5 linked regions of the Homo sapiens genome follow. The protein of the gene in region 2 purifies or fractionates together with the protein of the main gene of each other region. This does not show direct contact. Each region holds a gene or a part of one and is shown on either strand. Other genes may lie near its edges.

Region 1 (3,558 bases), on a different chromosome or scaffold from region 2:
CAGGAGAACCTGCTCCATCACTTGCTGGCTGTGTGACCTTAGCAGGTCCCTGTCACTCTCAGATTCATCCCCCCTGCTGCACAATGGACCACTTAATTTTAAAAATTAACTCGGGCATGGTGGCTCACGCCTGTAATCCCAGCACTTTGGGAGGCCAAGGAGGGCAGATCACCTGAGGTCGGGAGTCTGAGACCAGCCTGACCAACATGGAGAAACCCCGTCTCTACTAAAAATACAAAATTAGCCAGGAGTCGTGGCACATGCCTGTAATCCCAGCTATTCGGGAGTCTGAGGCAGGAGAATCGCTTGAATCTGGGAGGCCGAGGTTGCGGTGAGCCGAGATCATGCCATTGCACTCCAGCCTGGGCAACAAGAGCAAGACTCCAACTCAAAAAAAAAAAAATTAAACTCTTAATATGTGCCAGGCAAAAAGAACTCTATAAATAAGAATTCACGTTTCTTATTCTTACAACAAGACTATGAGGTAGATGCTATTTTTGTTCCTATTTTACAGGTGGGGAAACTGAGGCATAGAGAAGTTTGGCAGGGGAGGGAGGCTGAGTCAAAGGCCTTGAAGGCCAGGGTGTACAGGGGATCAGTTTTGGCTTGGGTGGTGTGGCCGGGACAATCTGGCACGGGGTTGGGAAGCCAGATGCCCACAGACATCCCTGCTGACCAGGAACCTCTTTGAACTCAGGACAGCACCACGGTGTGACGAAATGCAACATCACGTGCAGCAAGATGACATCAAAGATACCTGTAGCTTTGCTCATCCACTATCAACAGAACCAGGCATCATGCGGCAAACGCGCAATCATGTAGGTACTGCCCTCGAGGCCTCTGAAATCCCCTTTGGGCCCTTGGAATATTCCCAGACCTCTGAGAATCTACGTCCACACCTCCGCTCCCAGACCTGGGCTCCCAGCCAAAGGCCTCAGCACACGCTTCTCTTGCCCCTGGCCTGCAGGCCACCTCACTGACCTTAATTTCTGTGCCACATGGCTAAGGTGGAGAGTGGCTTCCTGAATGGCCCAGTGTGGCTGGGTGGCAGCCACCCTGGCTTGTGGCCTGGAGCAGCCATGAAGGGTGGTAATTCCTCCTGGGCTGAAGCACATGTTACCCCACACTCGAACCCACTATATTTCATGGGGCGGTGTGGGTAGGTGTAAAGCATGAGGGTCTTACTTAAAATGCAGGTTCCAGACTCTAACAGACCTGATGCAAATCCTGCCTTCCCTCTTACTGGCTGGGTGGCCCTGCTTCCATTGCTTACTTTTTGCAACTTGGTTTCCTTGTCTGTAAAATGGGTAGCTAGGACAGGATGTAACTAAAGTGCTTGGCAAGGGCGCGGTGGCTAATGCCTGTAATACCAGCACTTTTGAAGGCCGAGGTTGGTGGATCACTTGAGGCCAGGAGTTCAAGACCAGGCTGGCCAACACGGTGAAACCCCATCTCTACTAAAAATACAAAAACTAGCCTGGCATGGTGGTGGGCGCCTGTAATCCCAGCTACTCGGGAGGTTGAGGCAGGAGAATCGCTTGAACCCAGGATGCGGAGGTTGCAGTGAGCCAAGATGGCACCACTGCACTCTGGCCTGGGCAACATTGTGAGACTCCATCTCAAAAAAAAGAAAAAGACAAAGAAAAGTAAATAAAGTGCCTGGCAGGGTGCTGTCAGTAGGAGCTGCAGAAATCACTATCTCCATTGGACAGACAGGAAACGACCATTTCGAGACTTTGGGGAGGGATTGAGCCATTGTAACCCTGGCTGTTGAAGACCCTGGCAATCTTGGTCACTTGCTCCTCCTGGGGGCTCTCTTGGGTCCTGTCTAACCAGCCAGCCCTGAGGCCTTTCCCCAGGACTGACTTTTGGGACCTAAAGCAGCCTCAGCCAGACCTAGAGGCCGGGCAGCAGGAAATGGCCAATGGCCCTTTGCTTTCTAGGCCCAGCTAAAGGAAGTCTGGCACTTCCTCTCCTCAATTATGCAGTTTCTAAGGTGGGCAAGGTACTGAGTGTGCTCCTGCCGGACCTCTTTGCTGATCAGTCAAGGCTTACTTCTCCAAGACACCCCCAAGTATTTTTTGTTTTCTAGATGAAGGGGAAGAAGGAAGTTGGGGAGGGGATCACTGTGCCCAGGGGGCCTGCAGGGTCATACTTGCTTCCTGGACTTCTCTGGTTTCCCGGCATCCTGGAGCCAGATGCCTTTACTTCACCTCTCTGAGCCTTGGTTTCCTCATCTGTAAAATGGGGATGAGCCTGGTAGCCACCTTGTGGAATGGATGTAAGGTTTAGACATGGGCAAAATGCCAAGCACAGGCCGTGGCATGGAGCCAGGGCCTCTGTCAGCTCTGAGCTGTGGGCTTGGTGGTGAACTAGCCACACAGGGCTTCAGAGGAAGTTCAAGATTTGGAGGGCGCTCGGGATCCCAGTGAGGCTGCCACATATTTGGCTCTAGCCCCTTCTGCCCGTGAACACACATCAGGAGGGGAGGAGAGGGGCCCGGAGCACAGCCTGTAGCTGTGAAACCGAAGGAGAGGAGCAACAAGACTCACAAAGTCTCATAAGGCCTGTTCCAGAGTGAGGAGGCCCCATACAGAGCTCACCTGAAGTCCCCCCCAGCAGAAGACTCAAAGCCCAGAGCCCCCTGCCTTAATGGTAACAATATTATCGACATTGTTATTATTTTCAGCTATTACTGATCTACTCTGAGCTGGGTGCTTCACATAATTTACCTTTTTTTACAGTAACACAGAAGTAGGGTGATCAACTCGTCCGTGTTTGCCTGGGGACTTCCCCAGTTTTAAAATGGAAAGTCCCCCATCCTAAGCACCCCCTCCATCCCAATTTTTCTGGGATGGCTGGTCACCCTACAGATGGGAGGCTTTCCTATCTCCATTTCTAGGGTGAGGACCTGGATGCTCAGGAGAGCGGGTTGCCCCAGCTGGTCAGTTGCCTCACAGACGCTAAGTGGGAGGACAGGGTTTCCAGCCGGGTGTGTTCACCTGCAGAGTATTGGTGCTGTGCCCCCACACCACGCTGGCCCGGGTTTCTGGTATCTGGGCATAACCGAATCCCTGTCTTCCTCCCTTGTAGCTTGGAGACGAGACAGCACAGGCTGTTCTGTGCCGACCCGAAGGAGCAATGGGTCAAGGACGCGATGCAGCATCTGGACCGCCAGGCTGCTGCCCTAACTCGAAATGGCGGCACCTTCGAGAAGCAGATCGGCGAGGTGAAGCCCAGGACCACCCCTGCCGCCGGGGGAATGGACGAGTCTGTGGTCCTGGAGCCCGAAGCCACAGGCGAAAGCAGTAGCCTGGAGCCGACTCCTTCTTCCCAGGAAGCACAGAGGGCCCTGGGGACCTCCCCAGAGCTGCCGACGGGCGTGACTGGTTCCTCAGGGACCAGGCTCCCCCCGACGCCAAAGGCTCAGGATGGAGGGCCTGTGGGCACGGAGCTTTTCCGAGTGCCTCCCGTCTCCACTGCCGCCACGTGGCAGAGTTCTGCTCCCCACCAACCTGGGCCCAGCCTCTGGGCTGAGGCAAAGACCTCTGAGGCCCC
Region 2 (4,048 bases):
CAACACTGAAAAAGAGCTAATGTGATGACAGAGCCCAGAGTTTAGGCATGGCAGTGGCCCTGGCCCATCCCAGAGGGAAGTGGCCGGTCAAACAAATGCTAGCAGAGAGGGAAGGACATGGGTGTGGAAGGGAGGGTAAGCCTCTTCTCCTTCATGAATTATCAGCTCACACCTCTTCTCAGCTCACACCAGGAGGCCTGGCACAGGACAGTGAATCATGCCCAAGAAACTGCCTTGTGGCTTCCTGCCTTCCTCCCTCCCTCCCTATCTTTCCTCTTTTCTTTTCTCTTTTCTTTTCTTTTCCTTTCCTTCCCCTCCCCTTCCTTTCTTCCTTCCTTTCTTTCTTTCTTTCCTTCTCTCTCTCTCTCTTTCTTTCTTTCTTTCCTTTCTTCTTTATCTATCTCTGTTTCTTTCTCACTTCCTTTCTCCCTTCCATGAACCTACAGCTCTATTCAGGAGAACAATGACTGTCCATTGACTTAACACCCATGATAACCAGGCACTGTGTGACGCTGAAGTAGAACAAGGGGCTTTCAGAACCTGGTGGAAGGAGCTGGGCATCAGGTTCAAGGGAGTAACACAGTCGTGGAACATTGGGAAAGGAGGAGCTATTCACATGCCTGAGATGTAAGGATGTCTGGATTTTCCAAGGGCCGCGTCTAGTAAGAGAGTGTGTATTGAGGGCAACTCTGAGTTAGTGACTTGAGGTTCATCCTGTAGTGATCAGAGGAAATGGCTGGTGTATGAACCTAGGGAATCAGCACGCTCCTCTTCCTATGTCACTCCTGGAGAAGAAAGATACCACAAGAGGCAGGGTCTTCAGGGCTGAGCCACAATGTCACACAGATCCAGTCAATCCTGCCTGTCCATCTCAATGACATCTACTATCCCTGATCAACACGGCACCTTAAGGCGCCCTTCACAGTGAAAGCAACTTATTTCCAAAGCAGGCATTTTGCCTTCCATTGCTCCTCCCAGGTCCAAATCCAGTAAGAGACTGAAAATCAGATGATTCACTTATTCTGCACCATCCCCATGGCCTCGCAGAACCAGAAATGCCTATTGTTATTTCCATGTCCACTTCAACCATGAGGAAGCCCAATAGGACTAATCTGGCTAAAGATTAGGGCCCAGGCCAAGAGGCCTGGCTCGTTCTAGTCCTAGGAGCATGGTACTTCCTCCTAATTTAATCCATTGCCATTCAAGAAGACCTTTGCCCACAGCAACCACACCACAAAGGGTGGACAGTGAGTCAGGCCCAGGTGACATCACTGTCAGAGCTTAAGTGACAAAAAATGTTAAGCCAGAGATACTTATCACAAAAGCTGGAATGAAGTTAGAGCAGTCTTTTAAAAAATCCAATTTTCTTAAGGCAGGGCTCATTTTCTATATAAATACCAGCTAACAAGAGACTCTTCACCAGATCCCAGAGGCTGAACACCTCGACCTTCTCTGCACAGCAGGTGAGTCTCCGCATTAGGAACACCTTAATATTCTCCAATAGTTTCTTTATTTTGATTGAGATCTCTTTGCTATGCAATGAATATATTTATTTTAAATGCAATAACGACTTTTGTTTAAGGTGACCTTATACATATTTTGACTTTCCACTCAGATTACAGGTGTGGAACTTAGGATCAGAAAAGGGGAGTGATTTCTGTAAAGGCTTGCTAAGTTAGCAAGACAATATACCCACTTCAAGAGCACTCTCCTGTCAACATGTATTGAAAATTTTTAATATAGAAGGCACTACATTGGCAATTTTGATGATCAAAAGATAAGTTTTTCTTTATTGCATGAATGTATAATCCATTAGAAAACATATACTTGACTAAAATTTGCAAACATACAGCATGGGGAGTGATTAGCAGAGAGGGAAAGCAAGTATCATGCTGTGGCAAAACGAGGAAGGTGAGAGCATCAGGAAGGACAGCCATGAGAGGTGGGCATGTGTGGGGAGGCAGCGATGATGTGGAGAGCCTGCCAGAGAGCATGTGCAGCAGGCACAGTGTGAACAGAGGCTCCCAGGTGGATTGTGGGAGCCTTAGGGGGAAGTTTAGATAAGAGTTCTCCTGGGAGAACTATCGCACTCTATAAGGAGGACATGAGTGAGTAGATTCTAGACTGCTGACCTTAAAATCTTTCCAACTTATGGAAAAACTGAGGTGTCACATCAATCTTCAGCCAATGACACACAGCCAAGAGTGGTATTAAAAGTGATTTAATCAGGGAAGAGCAAGAAACATGCATTTCTTTTCACTCAATTCCTCAGATGATCCCTGAGCAGCTGAAGACCAGAAAAGCCACTAAGACTTTCTGCTTAATTCAGGAGCTTAGAGGATTCTTCAAAGAGTGTGTAAGCGAAAGCTTCAGAGTATATATTTGCATATTTGTATGTGTTTTCATGTTGTACGTAGGTTTTTAGATGTACCAGGAAGAAAAGAAGCATAAAGAAAGGCTCCATTTACACGATGTGGAAGAAATCAACTTTACCTTATTCTCTGGAAGATAAGTGGGGATCACCAAAGCATCCCATGATCTCAAATTCAGGGAAAAAGAAAGAAAAGAGAGGCTCTCAGTTCTGAAGGAGAATGAAATGACAGATATTTGTCATTAAACTGGGCTTCATTCCTACTTAATCAAAGCACTGAATTAGCTGTTTTGTCTCTAGGTCCAGCATCCTTTGAAGCATGAGTTCTTACCAGCAGAAGCAGACCTTTACCCCACCACCTCAGCTTCAACAGCAGCAGGTGAAACAACCCAGCCAGCCTCCACCTCAGGAAATATTTGTTCCCACAACCAAGGAGCCATGCCACTCAAAGGTTCCACAACCTGGAAACACAAAGATTCCAGAGCCAGGCTGTACCAAGGTCCCTGAGCCAGGCTGTACCAAGGTCCCTGAGCCAGGCTGTACCAAGGTCCCTGAGCCAGGTTGTACCAAGGTCCCTGAGCCAGGCTGTACCAAGGTCCCTGAGCCAGGTTGTACCAAGGTCCCTGAGCCAGGCTACACCAAGGTCCCTGAACCAGGCAGCATCAAGGTCCCTGACCAAGGCTTCATCAAGTTTCCTGAGCCAGGTGCCATCAAAGTTCCTGAGCAAGGATACACCAAAGTTCCTGTGCCAGGCTACACAAAGCTACCAGAGCCATGTCCTTCAACGGTCACTCCAGGCCCAGCTCAGCAGAAGACCAAGCAGAAGTAATTTGGTGCACAGACAAGCCCTTGAGAAGCCAACCACCAGATGCTGGACACCCTCTTCCCATCTGTTTCTGTGTCTTAATTGTCTGTAGACCTTGTAATCAGCACATTGTCACCCCAAGCCATAGTCTCTCTCTTATTTGTATCCTAAAAATACGTACTATAAAGCTTTTGTTCACACACACTCTGAAGAATCCTGTAAGCCCCTGAATTAAGCAGAAAGTCTTCATGGCTTTTCTGGTCTTCGGCTGCTCAGGGTTCATCTGAAGATTCGAATGAAAAGAAATGCATGTTTCCTGCTCTTCCCTCATTAAATTGCTTTTAATTCCAGTCTTGGCTGTGTGTGTCATTGGCAGAATCTTCCTCCTTCCTTGTTTCCCCATTGTGAGTCAGGACCTATAGACAGAGAGGAGTTGATGTAGAAGTCATCTATTTAACCCCAGTACTGTTTGTTTCTATGGGTGTATGGGGTTACAGTTGAGGTGTTCCTGGAATGGCAATGGGCCTGGTGTGATGTTGAATAGAAGTTGTCACTTTGGGCAGCCACAGGCTCTCCTCTTGCACTGGACTGAGTCATGCCTGACTCCAAGCCACCTGTTCCAAGACACCTCTGATCCTCAGTATCCTGACAACAAATCTCCTGTTTGTTCCAAGAAAACTTTACTCCTACATATTTTGACTGGACAGTCTATTTTTCTTCATTTGTTTTACCTTCTAGATACCCCACCACACACATACACACACACACACACGCACACACACACACAGAGTCATTCACAAAGAGAAACATTCATTTTAAATAGCCACACAGTCACATAATCATTCACACAAGCTCTACCCTCTCTAGCTCAA
Region 3 (3,558 bases), on a different chromosome or scaffold from region 2:
TGGTAACTAGCTACCTTCTTCATTTATTGCAGAGACTCTGGAAAACTGCAAAAAGGTTAAGCACATTTACAGAACAAAAAAGCTTAAATTAACACTTAGAGGAAAAGATAAACAGGCAGTAAACATTTGCATTACCAGGAGGAAGTATTTTTTTCACCATATCTTGTATCTGTTACTTAACTATAGTTATTGAATTTCTAAAAACTTCCCCAAAGCGATCAACATGGAGCAAAGTTCTCTCTATAAACAAAAAGAAATGAAGTGTTTGTATGCTCTGAGGAAGTAATGACTCTGCAGCACTTACAGTTCTTTTCGATTCATATAGTTAGAACAAAGAATTTTCATTGGCAGGGAGCTGGCAAATGGTAGATACAAATACCTATCCCTTCCCCCACTAAAAACACACATGCTTAGACCATTTCACTTTGTAGGCTTCTGGTTATTTGTGAGTCAGTCAAATGTAAACCACATTTGATGGGAAGAAAGTGTGTTCAGAAGAGGACCGACAGAAAAAAGTTGAAGACTCCAGGGACTAGAGTTCTCAAGAAAGTCAAAGAGAACTTGAGGTGATCATGAGAGAATAAAAACTCTGAAAAAATTACCATATGTCCCAACAGTTCCTCTCCTAGATGCCGATCCACGAGAAAAAGAAACATATGTCCACACGAAGACTTGTGCTGAAGCATTCATGGCAGCATTATGCATATTGGCCAAAAATGCAAACAACTCAAATGCCAATCAACTGAAGGACAAACAAAATGTGGTGTAGGCCGGGCGCGGTGGCTCACACCTGTAATCCCAGCACTTTGGGAGGCCGAGGCGGGTGGATCACAAGGTTAGGAGTTCGAGACCAGACTCACCAGCATGGTGAAACCCCATCTCTACTAAAAATACAAAAATTAGCCGGGTGTGGTGGTGTGCGCCTGTAATCCCAGCTACCCAGGAGTTTGAGGCAGGAGAATTGGTTGAACCCGGGAGGCGGAGGTTGCAGTGAGCCAAGATTGCGCCACTGCACTCCAGTCTGGGTGACAGAGTGAGACTCCATCTCAAAAACAAACAAACAATATGATGTAGCCATAATGGAGTACATATTCAGCCACAAAAGGAATGAGGCCCTGACACATGCTGCTACATGGACAAACCTTGCAAACGCGATGCTAAGTGAGAGAAGCCAGTCACAAAAGAGTGCACACTACATGATTCCATTTATATGAAACGTCCAGTACAAGTCAATCGACAGAAAGCAGATTTGTGGCTACCGGGGACTGGGGGTAGGAATGAGGAGTGACTGTAAATGGGTATGAGGTTTCTTTTTGTGGTGATGGAAATGTGCTAAACCTGGATTGTGGTGATGACTGCACAACTCTGTAAATACACTAAAAATCCTTCAATTGTATGCTTAATATGGGGGAATATTATGGTGTGTAAATACATCTCAACAAAACTGTAAACTAAAAAGGAACCTACGGGGCCGGGTGCGGTGACTCACGCCTGTAATTCCAGCACTTTGGGGGGCTGAGGTGGGCGGATCACCTGAGGTCAGGAGTTCGAGACCAGACTGGCCAACATGGTAAAATCCTGTCTCTACTAGAAATACAGAAATTAGCCTGGCCCCATTGGTTCCAAGTCATGACGGTCTAGGCTGATCCCATGGGGTGGGCTGCTGGGATCATGGACAAGGTCAGGAGGCCCTAACCCTGACTTCCACAGAACTGCCCTTGACACTCTGCTGGGATGTGCATTCATGTGTGCAGCTCCCACAGGGGACTGGAAGTAACTTGAGGGCTGAGGCTCTATCAGGTCTGATTCATGTGTCTGTCTCTAAGCCCTGCACATGCCCTGAGACACAATCCTGCATGGCTGGCACTCGATAATGTCCATTAGGAAAATCCAATGATGCTTTGAAAATGTCTTCCTCCATCCCCAGCAGCCTTGCGCAGGATAGTTTAGTGGATTACAGATAAGCTTTCTAGCTCTGTCTTAGAAAGTCATCCAACCTCTCCAAAGTGTAGTGGAAAAATACCATCTGCCTCCTGGGTTGCCATGGGAATTTTAACTCAATCTGATCTCACAGGAGACACCGTGACCTATTGCACAGTCGTTACCTGAGACTGAACTTCTGCAGGGCCCCAAGAACATTCTCCCTGGTGATGATATCCTTGTCCTCCTCCTTCAGCCTTCCCTCCAGCATCTGCAGCACCTTTGTGTTCTGGGCAAGGTAGAGGCGACCTGATAATACACCAGAGATGAAACAGGTGAAAGACAGAAATAATTTATCTGGTATGCTACAAAACCACTTTCCACGAAAACTTACTTTGCATATAACACAGTAGAGTTTGGGTAATTTTATGTTCTAAAAAACTTACTGGGCAGGGCGCGGTGGCTCACGCCTGTAATCCTAGCAGTTTGGGAAGCCAAGGCAGGCAGATCACCTGAGGCCAGGAGTTTGAGACCAGCCTGGCCAACATGGTGAAACCCCGTCTCTATTAAAAATACAAAAATTAGCTGGGTGTGGTGGCAGATGCCTGTAATCCCAGCTACTCGGGAGGCTGAGGCAGGAGAATTGCTAGACCCCAGGAGGCAGGTTGCAGTGAGCCTGAGATCGTGCCACCACACTCTAGCCTGAATGACGGAGCGAGACTCCATCTCAAAACAAACAAACAAACAAACAAACAAACAAACACTTACTGGTTGTGCAAGGTGGCTCACGCCTGTAACCCTAGCACTTTGGGAGGCTGAGGCAGGTAGACTGTTTGAGCCGAGGCGTTGGAGACCAGCCTGGGCAACAGGGCGTAACCTCATCTCTATAAAAACTAAGGAACATTAGCCAGGTATGATGATGCACACCTGTTGATCCCGCTAATTGGGGGGCTGAGGCGCGAGGAGTATTCCTTGAGCCCAGGTGGTTGAGGCTACAGTGAGCCGAGATCATGCCACTGTACTCCAGTCTGGTTGACAAAGTGAGACTCTCTCAAAAAAAAAAAAAAAAAAAAAAACCAAACACACACACACACACAAAACCCCCACAAAACTTATTAAAACTTATTAAAAGATATTTCTTCTAAACGTTAAACGTTGGTTTTATTCAATGAAATATCTGGTGACTAGAAAAACCACTCTTCTTGTGAGCTAAACATAATTCATTGCTGTGTTCTTGTGGGGAGCATTGTCCTTTTTTTTCCATGAAATCCTGAACCCAACAGTCAGATCTACAAAGAGAAATGAGGGGTAATGTGTGTGTTATGAGCCCTTAAGTCTTCACAACAGAGGCAGCCAAGGAATGCTTCCATACACACTCTCTGTACAAGGCCTGGAGAAGAAGCAGGAAGCCACACCTGGGACCCTGTAATAAGCCCAGAATGGTCCCTAGCCTGTTGTGGACTTCTGAATGGATATGGAAGATGTTAATTTCAGACATAAGTTTCAACAGTATTATTATATGAATGGTCCTCAGTAACACATCCTGGCTTATCATAAATGTCTGCCAAATGGATGGAAGAACGAATGAACAAATGAACAAAGTTTTGGAGTATCATATATTCATAATTTGAAAACTCC
Region 4 (3,558 bases), on a different chromosome or scaffold from region 2:
GACGGGGCCCTTATCTGCCTCACTCCCTGCCATCGCGCCAGTTTCTAGAACAGAGCTGAGCCCATTCCTGTTGCTCCGTCATGACTGCCTCCCCGACCCCGGGGAGGAAGGCAGGGCTCAGCTCTGCATGGAAGAATGTGTGCTGCTAATTGAGGTTGAATCATTTGGCACTTAATTTTCACTTTCATTTGAAATCCTCTCTTCGGTAAACTGGCGAATCCAGCCTGGGATTCCAGTGGACAGGATGACATCAGCCTCCCTAGCTGTGTGCGCCAGGCCCCACCAGGTTCTGCCTGGCCTCTCGGCAGCCCCATCCCTGCTCCTGCCGCTGTGTGTGTGGGTGCCTCATGATGTCCAGTGGCTCAAGCCTCTGCCTTAGCTCAGGCACCCCTTCTGTTGGGTATTCTGTTCCCTCCTGCTCCACCTCTCCCTGCCCCGTGACACCTCCAGCTGCCTTCATCTTTCAACCAATAGCACGGTAAGGGCCTCCCCTCCTGGCTGATGTGCCAGTTTCCCCCTCTGTTCCCCTCTGGCCCCTCCCTAAGACTTCTCCAAGAGGGTCCCTCCCTCCCTCCCTCCTTCCCTCCCTCCCTTCCTCCCTCCCTTCCTCCCTTCCTTCCTTCCTTCCTGACGGAGTCTCGCTGTGTCACCAGGCTGGAGTGCAGTGGTGCGATCTCGGCTCACTGCAACCTCTGCCTCCCGGGTTCAAGCGATTCTGCTGCCTCAGCCTCCCAAGTAGCTGGGACTACAGGCATGCACCACCACACCCAGCTAAGTTTTGTATTTTTGGTAGAGACAGGGTTTCACCATGTTGGCCAGGATGGTCTCGATCTCTTGACCTGGTGATCCACCTGCCTCAGCCTCCCAAAGTGCTGGGATTACAGGCGTGAGCCACCGTGCCCAGCTGGGACCTTTTATAAATGCAAATCTGATCTCATCACCTCTGCCTGGCTTGGCCCCTTGCTGGTTCCCCATTGCCCTGAGAACCAAGACCTGACTGGTCCGTGCCCCTATGACATCAATCCTTTCTCACCCCCAAGTCACTAGCCATGCGTGCCCTGTGGTCTCTGGGTTCCTTGAATGCACCATCCTTCCTCCGTGGGGGTGGGCTTCGGTGGTGGTCAGGTGATACCTGGGTGCTGGGGCCCCTTCCACCTGCCCCATTCCCCTCCTCCACTCCATTCTAGGGCCAGGCCTCAGAGTTCTACAGGCACTAGATGAAAACATGGTCTCTGCTCTCTCCAACTCCATTTCCAGCCATGAAATAGCAGCGATGCTTACCATGTGGGCCTTTCTGAATTGGGTAACAGGATCTAGCCTTGCTCTGCCACCCACTGGCTGGGAGATCTTGGGCAAGTCCCTTCCTCTCTGTAAGCCTCAATTTCTTCATCCGGAAAATGGGGTGAGGGTTGCCCATGGTGGTCTGTGCATAAGGTTCCTCTCTGGTCCTGGCTGCCTGTGGGTCTCTTAAGTAAGGGGGACCCTCAGGGGTGTCACACCATTGACACATTCCTGCACCTGTCCCTCTGGTCCTCTGGGGAGGGGCCCTGTGGCAGGGGCATTTGGGGACATGGAAAATGAGACTGCTTAGCTTCTCAGCATCTCCCAGTGGGGTGGCTTGAACATCCTCTGTTTTTTTGGATTCTCCTAATGGCTCCAAGAAATAGGTATTTTCCCCTCCACATTAAAGAGATTGAGGCTCAGAGAAGTTAGGTCACTCACCCAGGGTCACACAGCCAGGATGTCCTGGCTTCCCAAGGAACTCTGTGTTCCCGCCCAACAAGAAAGGTCCTTGACCTCTTCAGGCCTCAGTTTCCTCATCTGTCTAATGGGGGTAACTTAAGATCCTTTTGTCTTGGATCACATGAGACTTCAAGACCTAACATACAAAGACCCTCAGCCCCCTGCCTGGCCTCAGAGAAGGTGGCTGTTGCTTCTCAAGGTCCCAGCTCTTTCCCCATCACCGTGGCCCTGAGATTCCAGGGATGACCCAGAGGAGACAGGTGAATCTTGTGGGGCTTCTTGGCACTAGCACTGTGGCTGGACATTAGAGGAGAGAGTGTCCAAGCATTTCCCAAAAGTGTGTTTCTGGTCAAAACTGGAAAAACAACACAGGTGTGGCTTTTCCCATCATGCCTCACTGTGTCTCCCTGGACAGCGCCTTCTTCCTGAAATCCCACAGCAGTGTAGGTGGTACCCAGAGTAGGTGCACGCCAGCACCTGCTGTGCACCAGACCGCGGGCTGGCCCCAGGGTGCAGCGGCAAACAAATGAGGCTTAGTGCCTGCCACCTGGGATGCTGAGTTCCCCAAGGAGTGCTGGTTTAGGTGGGGTGGTAGCCCCGACATGGCTGGAAGTCAGGAAAGGCTTCTTGGAGGAGGTGACATTGAGCAGGGGCTGGAGGGATGAGTAAAAGTCAGCCAGCCTGGCAGTGGGGAGGAAGAGAAGGGAGAGAGGAAGGAGAGTGGGAAGTCAGGGGCCACTGTTTGCAGGCACTTTCCAGACAGGCGGGAACAGGGCCGTTTGAGGAACTGAGAGGTAACCAGGAATTCTGTCCAGGGCTGGACAGGCAAAGTGTATTAAAAAGGCTGGGCTGCCCACTTTTTGGGGGTGTGGGGGACTCCTCTCAGGAGAGGTGTCTTTTGTGTTACTCTGAAGTGTTAGCGCTTCTGCAGCCTAACATTGAGTAGCGTTCTCTGAGGACTTCCTGGAGGAGGTGGTTTAATTCCCTTCCACCTGCATTCACTGGGTGACAGGCCTGAGACTGTGGAGAATAAGCAGGCATCGGCCTGGCCCACACAGAACCCACAGCCCTTGAAGGGGTGGAGACTCACCAAGTGCCTGCTCGTGGTCCAGGCAAAGTAGTCACCTGAGAGAGGGAACCATGGGCTCTTTACAGGTAGAGGACGACGAAGCTCCGCCAGAGAGGAGGACTTGTCTGGGCAGGGTTTTGAAGCATGAATAGAAGTTGGGAGTGAAATGGGGCTGGAAGCGTATTCCAGAGGGAGATACAGACAGGATCAAAGGCTTGGAGGGCTGGGCAGCCTGGAGGGTGTGGGGGCCAGAGACCAGGTTGGTGAGAACATATGGACAGCTAAGGTGGGAAGGACATTCTGGGCAGGGGCTTTGTGTGGACCAGCACAGGGAGGTGGGCAGTGTGAGCCTTTCCCGGGAAACGGCTTGGCTGGTGTGCGAGGGGAGGAGTAGGAGGAGAAGTCAGAGGAGCCGGAGGTCTCAGTGGACCAGGTCAGGGCCTGTGTGGGGGACCACAGCGGGAAAAGTGACAGTGATTCCCTAACCCTCAGGGGCAGGCGGTGAGGGCATTCCCGGAGGCACAGCTGTGGCCTGGGGCAGTGAGCACTGGTCGTGGTCACTGGTTTCTGGTTTCTTACCTAGTTGGGTCACTCACTGGCTGTGTGGCCTTGGGCAAGTCACTGCATCTCTCTGAGCCAAGTTTTCCCTTCCACAGCGTGGGTAGCCAGCACCTTCCTCGCGGGGATGTGTGTAGCAAGAACTGGCTTGCAAAACCTCCCCTATTCCGAGCTTGGAGCCCTGGGAT
Region 5 (3,558 bases), on a different chromosome or scaffold from region 2:
ATTTATCTTTGCCAAAACCAACAAAGTCACAGAGGCTTTCACTGCAGTGTGGGACCACCTGAGCCTCTGCGTGTGCAGGCACTGGGTCTCGAGAGGGTGCAAGGGGGATAAAGAGGAGAGAGCGCTTCATAGACTTTAAGTTTTCCCGAGCCTCATGTCTACCGATGGCGTGAAAGGATCCTGGCAAAACAGAAGTGTGAGGCAGGTGGGCGTCTATATCCATTTCACCAGGCTGGTGGTTACATAATCGGCAAGCAAGAGCTGTGGAGGGGCTTGCTGGATGCCCTCAGCACCCAGGAGGAGGGAGGGAGCTAGCAAGCTAAGGCAGGTGGCCCTCCTGGCCCCTTAAGGTCCATCTGCTGGAGGCCCAGAGTCCTTGGAGTACAGTCTACACCTGGAGGGGACCCATTCCTGCCAGTCTGTGGCAGGGATGGCGCGCCACCTCTGCCAGGCCAGGACCCCAAGCCCGATCAGCATCAGCATGGTGCAGGTGCACAGGCGTGAGCTGATCAGTGACGAGGGGCAGGCACACAAGGTGGAGACAAAGACCAAGAGGACGGTTGCCAGTGAGAGGCGCGGACTCAGGAACTTGAACAACATCTGCGGGGGACGGCTTTGGAGGTGCTCCGCTGCCTCCAGTTGGGTGACTTGCTGTAGCATCTCCAGCTTGGATATTCGGCTCTTGAAGGTCTCCGTGATCTCCTGCAGGAGACGAAAATGCACGCACCAGAAGTCAGCACAGAGTTGTGGTCGTTTATTGAGTTCTTAGGGGTGAGCAGAAAGCACTGTGGAGTGGGTATTCGAGGAGGGAAGCAGAGAGCCTAGAGCACATTCAGGGCAGAGGGGAGGGCGCAGGCTCTCCAGCAACAGGGAAAGCTTCATCTGACCCGGCTGCACTCCCCCATCCACTGTCTCCCGAAGCTGAGGACCTGGTCAAGACACAGCTACCCAGGGACGGGGGTGGGCGCTATGGGAATGGAAAAGTGAGGAGAGGGAAGCCAGGTCTAAGGAGGGGTTCTGAGAGGGCGCTCCCTACACCTGCAGCCGCAGCAGAAGCAGCTCCACCCCAGATCTCCCGAGTCAGAGGCTCACGGGTGAGCACTGCAGCACCAGAGTGGCAAAAGCAGCTAAGCCAGATGGTGGGAAGCGGAGCGTGAGTGTAAAGATCAGATGCTGCTAGCTCTGAAACAAATGTGTGTGGCCATCGAACCCTCAGGAGGGGGCAGCTCGAGGACCCGTGTCTTGCTTTGGTTTGGGGGTATCAGAATAGATTCGCTCATCCCTCCAGTCTTCTTGCAAGGCTCCCCCAGGAGGTTCTCACCCATATTTCCTTGGCTCTCTCATAGGATAGATAGGCCATTCTCTCTTCGCTGCAGGCCAGATTGTGTTTGAGGTTGTAAATCTCATTCAGCTGTCCCTGCAGGCGACCATTCACCTGTTCTTCCATCAATGCTTGCCTTGGGAGCAAAAGAGAAAGTGAGATTCCTTCAGTACCTCATCCAGAGCTCATGCCAACAGCGAGCGGTCCTGACCTAGACTAGATTCGGGTTCAGCTTCTGCCTTCCTCCCCGCTCCCCAGGCTCTAGGGAAAGCCTGCCTCCCACTCCAGGTCTGCCTGGGAACACCCCAAACACACACCAGCCACACGCACACCAATATTCATATATATTTTATATGTAGTTACTCTTTTGTAACAGCTTTACAAAAATAGCCACAGACTAGAAGTTGTAGAAATGACAGTGTGAACTATCTGTGTGTGCTCTTCAGTTCCGCAAATCCCCCAGGACCAGTGTTGAGCACGAAGTCTAGCCTGCAGTTTAGCCTGCAGTTACTCTATAGAAACATGGTGACTATAAGGATTGAAAAGCCACAAAAGACCACAGATTCCAGTACAATTCCATTAGTTACGAAATGTCCAGAATAGGCAAATCCATAGAGACAGAAAGCAGATTAGTGGGTGCCAGGGGCTGGGGGTGGGGGATGGGCAGTGGCTGCTAATGAGTACAGGGTTGCTTTGGGGCTGGTGAAAATATTGTAGGACCGGGCACGGTGGCTCACGCCTGTAATCCCAGCACTTTGGGAGGCCAAGGCGGGCGGATCATGAGGTCAGGAGATCGAGACCATCCTGGCTGACACGGTGAAACCCCGTCTGTACTAAAAATACAAAAAAAATTAGCCGGGCGTGGTGGCGGACGCCTGTAGTCCCAGCTACTCGGGAGGCGGAGGCAGGAGAATGGCGTGAACCCGGGAGGCGGAGCTTGCGGTGAGCAGAGTTCACACCACTGCACTCCAGCCTGGGCGACAGAGCGAGACTCCGTCTCAAAAAAAAAAAAAAGAGAATATTGTGGAATTAGATAGTGGTGATGGTTGAACAACTCTGTGACTATACGAAAAACCAGTGAATTGTACACTTTAAATTGGTGAATTTTATGGGATGTGAATTATATCTCAATAGAGCCGTTATTTAAACAAAAAGAGAAAAGTGAATCATGGCAATAGTTGCGCAACTCAGTAAATTTACTAAAAACCATTGAAATGTAGTTAAAATGGTGCATTTTATAATATGTAAATTATATCTCAATAGAGCTGTTAAAAAACCACAAGCAGGCCAGGCGCAGTGGTTCACAGTTGCAATCCCAGCGCTTTGGGAGGCCAAGGCAAGGGGATTGTTTGAGGCCAGGAGGAATTCAACACCAGCCTGGGCAACACAGTGAGACCCTGTCTCTACAAAAAAAATTTTTAATTATCTGGGTGTGGTGGCACGTGCCTGTAGTCTCAGCTACTCTGGAGGCTGAGGCAGGAGGACCTCTTGAGTCCGGGAGTTCGAGGCTGCAGTGAGCTGCCATCACGCCACTGCACTCCAGCCTGGGCAGCAGAGTGAGACCCTATCTCTAAAAGAAAACAATCACTACCTGTTGTGTATATAATTATATAAGTAGTAAAAGTATAAAACCATGCATGGAAAAGATAAGCACCCAAATGAGAATGGTGAGGCCAGTATAGCAAGGCCAGAATAGCAAGGAAGGGAGATGGTGCTGGAAAGGGGTAATGAGGGCTTCAACAGAATATTTTAAAGTTTTATTTCCTAAAAAAATAAGATTTGAAGTGAATATGGCAAATGTTAAGATTTCAGAAAGCTGGGGCTGTTAATTATGTTATCCTTACATTTTCCCTTTGCTTGAAATACTTCATAATTTAAAAACTTCTATGAAGTTCCCCTTTTGGCACCACAAAGAACGGGCCAGAAGGACAGAGGCCAGGGGGCCAGTGAGGGGGCTCTGGCACCACCGCTTACGTAGAAGAGAGAAGGCACCAGAGCGTGATGGAACCCATAGACTGGCAGGGCTGCCGCCCCAGGAGGCCCAGGAGGGTGGCGGCAGGCCTCAGGTGCAGGAGGTCTAAACGGTGGTGCTGACAGAGACGGGGAAAACAGTGACGACTTCTATTCGGTCCCACTCCAAGGACTTGACCAACACCCACACGGAGAAATCCCCCGGGCACTGAATAAGCTGACAGCTCATTTGTTGAAAGCCAATTTGTCAAAAGCTGGTTCCTCGC

Evidence for each region.
Region 1: the proteins of SPRR3 (region 2) and CX3CL1 purify together in Homo sapiens (co-immunoprecipitation; one large-scale study listed by IntAct). This does not show direct contact.
Region 3: the proteins of SPRR3 (region 2) and ARMC9 purify together in Homo sapiens (co-immunoprecipitation; one large-scale study listed by IntAct). This does not show direct contact.
Region 4: the proteins of SPRR3 (region 2) and RAC2 purify together in Homo sapiens (co-immunoprecipitation; one large-scale study listed by IntAct). This does not show direct contact.
Region 5: the proteins of SPRR3 (region 2) and TEX28 purify together in Homo sapiens (co-immunoprecipitation; one large-scale study listed by IntAct). This does not show direct contact.

The regions. Positions count from the first base shown.
Region 1 is NC_000016.10:57,378,937-57,382,494, forward strand, and holds part of CX3CL1 (fractalkine isoform 1 precursor), read left to right. Parts: intron 1-697; coding exon 698-818; intron 819-3,093; coding exon 3,094-3,558. UniProt on the Homo sapiens protein: Chemokine that acts as a ligand for both CX3CR1 and integrins ITGAV:ITGB3 and ITGA4:ITGB1. The CX3CR1-CX3CL1 signaling exerts distinct functions in different tissue compartments, such as immune response, inflammation, cell adhesion and chemotaxis.
Region 2 is NC_000001.11:153,000,331-153,004,378, forward strand, and holds SPRR3 (small proline-rich protein 3), read left to right. Parts: upstream 1-1,418; 5' UTR 1,419-1,463; intron 1,464-2,272; exon of another isoform or gene 2,273-2,356; intron 2,357-2,671; 5' UTR 2,672-2,690; coding exon 2,691-3,200; 3' UTR 3,201-3,526; downstream 3,527-4,048. UniProt on the Homo sapiens protein: Cross-linked envelope protein of keratinocytes.
Region 3 is NC_000002.12:231,271,626-231,275,183, reverse strand, and holds part of ARMC9 (lisH domain-containing protein ARMC9), read right to left. Parts: intron 2,230-3,558; coding exon 2,106-2,229; intron 1-2,105. UniProt on the Homo sapiens protein: Involved in ciliogenesis. It is required for appropriate acetylation and polyglutamylation of ciliary microtubules, and regulation of cilium length. Acts as a positive regulator of hedgehog (Hh)signaling.
Region 4 is NC_000022.11:37,234,257-37,237,814, reverse strand, and holds part of RAC2 (ras-related C3 botulinum toxin substrate 2), read left to right. Parts: intron 1-3,558. UniProt on the Homo sapiens protein: Plasma membrane-associated small GTPase which cycles between an active GTP-bound and inactive GDP-bound state.
Region 5 is NC_000023.11:154,271,070-154,274,627, forward strand, and holds the end of TEX28 (testis-specific protein TEX28), read right to left. Parts: intron 1,458-3,558; coding exon 1,322-1,457; intron 703-1,321; coding exon 346-702; 3' UTR 196-345; downstream 1-195.